Regions from separate parts of the Homo sapiens genome. Here region 1 is linked to region 2. Evidence: fine-mapped expression QTL. Tissue or cell type: pancreas. Region 2 holds a variant in brackets; the other region holds the start of a gene. All regions are shown on one strand. Distances are between the middles of the regions.

Region 1 (2,679 bases), 170 kb after region 2:
TAGGTCAATCCCAAAGACACACCAACAAAAAGTCAAAGCAGGATTTAAAAAAATGTCATAAGCAAGCTGGAATCATATATATCTCTGGCCTAAAGGAAGCCAAGGTCTCTGCAGTGTCAGATCGTCAGATCCTCCTCCTGGGGAGGCCATTCTTTTTGCGAAGTCTCCAGTCCCATTACAAGTGAGTTGCCGGGGACTTCATGTAGGGGGAACAAGAGCTAGCCCACAGATGAAAACCCAGGCAAGCCCTCTGCTTTTGCACAGTGAACGAACGTGCCCACAGGCTTCTCAGCATTGAATTTGAACGAGCCAATGGTATCCCAATCATTGAAACAGGAAGCCAGATAAACAGCATGTTATCAAGGGGGGATCCAGCTCTTCCCTTAAGCCGGCGCCAGCTGCGCCCTGTGACTATCCTAACAAAGTCCCATTGACTCACCAGCTGATTTTCCTGTGTTCGGCTCCAGGGGACAAGGAACCCTCTCTGCCGGGTGGACGTCACCCCTACACACCGCCCCCGCCACCCGCCACTCGCGTCCTCTCCAGTTCCTGCCTCCCCTCTGCCCGCTGCAAACTTAGCTGCTTCTTTATCCTATGACCAGTTTTTATCGGCTCTGGGGATTAGCAGGGACCAGAGCCCAAGCCTCGGGAGCGCTCAGGTGAGCTCCCCGTGATCACCCAATTTCTGCGTTCTCCTCTCTCCCCTCTCCTCCGGGACCACTTTCTCCGCTCCCAGACGCACTGGGCGGGCGCCAGAGAGGACGGCCTCCGGGAGATTGGCGGGAGGGCGCTTCCCGGCGCATCCCGGGGGTGCGGGGAACGTTTTCTGGAACGGCCCGCGAGGTCACCTGCCCCAGCTGTTCCTCTGGCTCCTGCTGGGATGGGAGGAGTTAACTCTTGCTTCAACGAAAGGCAGAGGTGCGGGTAGGGTGTGTGCTTGCCGTGTGGGTGCGAGTATAAGAACGCAGCACCTGGTGTCTCATGATAAGATCTCAACGCACTTTAAATTGTGGGTATTTCACAACAAGGAAACTGAGGCTCAGAGGGACTGAAGTTAGGCAGCCCCCCCGGAGAGTCAACTCTAGAATCAAACGCGCAGTCAGTCCCATAGGGGTCGAAAGGGCACACACCTTCCCGGGAAGCCGCGAGCATCTTGGTTGTTATTTATTCCAGCGCCTCTCCCGAGCCCAGCCCACAGCCTCCCTCGGGCACCAACCTCCCCTACCCCGAGACTTGGTCTCGGCCTCGCAGGACCTGCCAGCCAAGCCTCGCAAAACGGGAAGCGCCAGACCCTCAGCGCCGCGACCGCGCGACCGCCCCGCGCCGGCCACTCACCGGAGCGCCTGCCCGCCCGGGCTCCGGGTCCGCGCCGCAGCCGCGCAGAGTCGCGCATCCCCAAGGGCAGCGCGGGTGCGGGGTCCGCTTCTCGCGAGCACAAAGTTTCCCGGGGCTCCCCAGGCCGCCTCGGCCCCTCGCACCAGGCTTGGCGTCCGCCGCGCACTCCAGCCTCGGGCCCCGCACTAGGGCAGCCGCCGGCCCCGGCCCCACAATGAGGAGGGAGGCGGCATCCTGAACAAAGTGCCGTCCCCTCGGGAACGGCGGCCGGGGCGGAGCCTCGTGACCCGCTGCCCCAGGCACACGCCGGCTGCCTCCACGGCGGGCCCAGGAGGGGAGTGCCTGGCGGCCGGGGGGCGGGCAGGAGGAGAGAATCCGTCCGATCGCCCTGGCTTTCCTCCCCCTGCACTGTGCCAGTTTAACCCGCAGAGGGGCGGAGGCATGGGTCCCTTCCAGACTTTGTCATTGGAAAGCTATTCCCGTAACCCTTTGCTGCCTTCGCCTTCCCGTCCCGCCTCCCAGGCTGGCCGCAGAAAGGCGGCTGCTCGGTGGCGGACCCGCGAGCTGGCAGGGCAGGAAGCCTTTGCACAATTGAGCCTTTCCTTTGCCCGGGGACCCGCCACCGCCACTTCCAGGCCGGGTTTCCTCCCTCCCCCACATGTCGTCCGGGTACCGCTCGCTGGTTCAGCCGCAGTTCTTTAGGAGAAGGGGACAGATGGATGGGCCAGCCTCTCCACCCGACTTCTGACCCCGGGCACCCACCTCCTTTCTTTCTCCACCCCACTGAACTGTCATGCTGTCTGAGCTGTCTTAGAGGAGGGGGAGGCCCCGCAAGTGCCCCGCAAATAGTAGGTGCTCAGTAAAATAAGTGACTTCTCCCCACCTTCCAGACAGCCGATGCCCCTCCTCCTTCTTCCAGGGACTTGGGAGTGGGAGGAGGGGGAAGAAGAGGAGAGAGGAAATGACAGGACCTGAGGAGAGTGAATGGGAGGAAGGCCCTCAGCCAGAACCTACTGCAGAAGCAGTGCAAGCCCCCTGCCTCCTGGCTTGGGGACTTCCAGGGTCTGCAGGAAGAAGGCAGAAGGAAGCCAGATGACCTGAGCTTTGAAGCAGGCTTTGGAAAGGGAGTAGCTGTGGCCAAGGACCCAGCAGATTCCCCTGCTCCTGCCAACAAATAAGAGGACTGATCTATTCCCAGGGCCATGGGGTTGCAAGTTGGAGGACTGATGGATAGAAAGCAAAACTGCCTACTCCCTGGGAGGTCTCACAGCTCTTTGCCAGCAAAATCAGTGTGAGCAGAGTCAGGATGAGAGCCCTTGAGTCCTCCCTGAACGCCCCACACAG
Region 2 (2,679 bases):
GGGGCTCTTGGTTCCTTTCCTATAAAGGGAGGCAGAAGCCAGAGGCCCTAGACGCTCCCCCTAAACCAGTCAGCATTATGCAAAAGGCTTGATTGAAGCCTCCCCTTTCCCACTAGAAGCAGAAAACCAATAGCGCCTGCCTAGGGTCAAGCTGTCCGGCTTAACGGAGGGACTGGGGGCTGGCTGCTCTGAGTCAGTGGCACCAGGAGGCTGGAGCTGCTACTTCTCTCCTACTCCTGTGAGTGAGTCATTTGGGGTGTGGCCCTCTCAGCAACTAAGCACTTTCTGGTGTCTTTGGCATGAGGCTGGTGGGTGACTTGGTGCTGAGAGATGTTCCAACAATTTCCTTGGATGGGGGAAGGCAGATGTCCAAGATTTCATCCGCTGGGTCCTAAACTGATAAGCCAAGCTCTGCCAGATCCCTGCTTCACTTGGGCTCCTGCTGGGGGCTTGGGGCTATGAGGGATGGCAGTAAGGGACAGATGTAAGGGGGTCCTGGAGCCCCCACCATCCACCTTTTTCCAGGACTTCCTTGGTCACCTCCCTTTCAGTAGTCAGGGTTCTGCTGGCCTGAGCAGAGGTAATCCCCAGAGAGTTTTGATTTATCTTACCATTTAAAATACTCGAGATGTCTGGGAGTAAAGGGCTGAGTGTCCAAGATGCGGGCATGGGCTGGGGATAGGGGGAGGAGTAGTACAAGGAAGGAGAAGGAGAAGGGTCATCTAAGCAGGAAGAACTACAGCCAACGGCTGAAAGCTACTTAAGACTAAGTGCAGTTCCACATCAGAGTTGCTGCAATCCCACAATGCACCGGGGTGACTGAAAGGTAGTGAGTTGGCCGGGCGCGGTGGCTCACGCCTGTAATCCCAGCACTTTGGGAGGCCAAGGCGTGTGGATCACTTGAGGCCAGGAGTTTGAGACTGGCCTGGCCAACATGGTGAAACCCCATCTCTACTAAAAATACAAAAATTAGCTGGGCGTGATGGCACACAGCTGTAATCCCAGCTACTCGGGAGGCTGAGGCAGTGGGCGACAGAATGAGACTCGGTCTTTAAAAATAATAACAAAATATTTTTAAAAAGCCTATGTTAAAAATAAAAAAAGAAAGGTAATGAGTTCTTTGTCATTGGTGGTATGTAAATATGTCCATGGGTGTGGTCCCATCCTCAGAATCCCAAATGGCCACACCCTGGGCTAAAGAAAGTCCTTTTCCACTGCCCCTGTGTCCCAACTTTGCTCTTAATTTTCCAGCCCCAGGAGTTGGAGAGGAATCTACTTCCAGTCTAACTGGGGAGGCTTCCTAGCCCTCACACAGCCTTCCTGCCCCACACCCCCCATGATTTCCCAATCTGGCTGTCTGTTCTGCCTCCCGCTGTCCCCAGAGCTTAGCCCAGCCCTCTGCCCCACTTGGAGCTGACAGCATGAGCTCATCTGGGCAGTCCAAGGAGCCAGCAAGGGAAATTCTGAGTCACAGCAGAGCCTGTGGCCAGGACTTTGCTCCAGAGAGAGGTGCC[G/T]TGGGAAGGCTGAGTGCCCCATGCAGCTGGAGGCTATGAGGTCTCTGCAGGGAGTGGGCTAGGGGGACACACCTAACAGGGCATGGAGCTGGGTGACACTGTGTGGGCCCTGTTGAGCACTCAAGCCTCCCTCAGTGGCTCGTAGAAGAGGCCAGGGGGCACCTAACTGACACAAGAGTGAAAAGACCCAGGTGTTGAGAAGGGAATTGATTCTAGACCCCTAGTTTAATGGAGACTTAGGAACAGGAAGAGAGCATTTAGTAAACCTTCTCTTGACAGATTGAGGAGACAGAGGTCTAATGAAGGAGACTGACTATCAAAGATCACACATTGAGCTGTGTAATGGCTTCCACTTCCTGGCTCCTAAGCTAGTGATTTTCAAGCTGATTTGCTGAAATGAAATGAAATGTTCAGGCACAAGCAGACAGAAGACAAAGCCAAGCTTCTCTTGTTGAGATAAATGGATTTCCTCCTCCTTCTGCAGTGGCTCCACGCATCAGGCCACCTGGCTGACCTGGCAGAGGTGTGGAGGGACCCGGGGGCCCTGCCCTCCAGAATGGGGTGGAGAGCCAGGAAGGCAGAGGGCATGACCCTCTCTGCAGCTCGAGCTTACCTGTGAGTCACCTGGGACCCTCGCAGGCTGGACATGGTCTCTTCCAGGTTCTGCCGGAGATCCAGGACATTCTGCACTGTCCTCTTTCTCTGGGACTCTGGGTCTGGTAGGGAGAGAAGGAAGAGCTGGGTGAGTGAAGAGAACTTAATGCTGGGATCCTGGGGGTCAGGAAGTGGAGATTGACAGTGTCCCCAGGAGGCTAGTCCCTGGGCCATGATAGTCACCTTCCTCCTCCCTTTCCCAAAGACAACCAACAGAATGGGCCCTCTCAAAGGCCCTGGACATGTGCCATTGAGCCCTCTGAACCCCAGATCCTGGCAGGGGGTACAGGCATGGCTTTCTGTGTCTGTGCACTCCTTTCAGAGCCCCCAAGGAACTGCCTCTACCTCTGGCTTTGTTTTGGGGAGGCCCTGCTTCTCATAGCAGAGGTCCTGGGCAAGATTTCTCGTGGTTGAGATGAGCTGGAACATCTGCCTGAAACCCCCTATCCAGGGTTGTGCTGGTAAATGTTTAACAACTGGCTTTCGGAGGAAGGGGACACCGATGTGTGGT

Which allele goes with the higher level. Positions count from the first base shown, and alleles are read on the strand shown. Sizes are in standard deviations (SD) of each study's normalised expression.
With allele G in place of T in region 2, the expression in pancreas of the gene that starts at base 1,551 in region 1 is higher (moderate effect, 0.50 SD a copy in GTEx).

What was found. PIP is the estimated chance that this variant, and not a neighbour inherited with it, causes the effect.
Region 1: it holds the start of NAV1, and the variant in region 2 is fine-mapped to the expression of NAV1 in pancreas (GTEx, PIP above 0.99).

The regions. Positions count from the first base shown.
Region 1 is chr1:201,537,999-201,540,677 of GRCh38, reverse strand. NAV1 (neuron navigator 1) reads right to left here and starts at 1,551. Exons shown (of 34, transcript NM_001389617.1): 1 at 1,336-1,551. LOC124904484 (a long non-coding RNA gene) reads left to right here and starts at 533. Exons shown (of 2, transcript XR_007066793.1): 1 at 533-659.
Region 2 is chr1:201,712,368-201,715,046 of GRCh38, reverse strand. It overlaps NAV1 (neuron navigator 1), which reads right to left. Exons shown (of 34, transcript NM_001389617.1): 6 at 2,128-2,230. The region is part of intron 2 of IPO9-AS1 (IPO9 antisense RNA 1); the gene reads left to right. Among named protein-coding and RNA genes, the nearest start is that of MIR5191, 5.8 kb to the left of the region's middle. RefSeq lists enhancers at 1,292-1,586, 1,430-2,118. The variant G/T (reference allele first, on the strand shown) is at 1,515.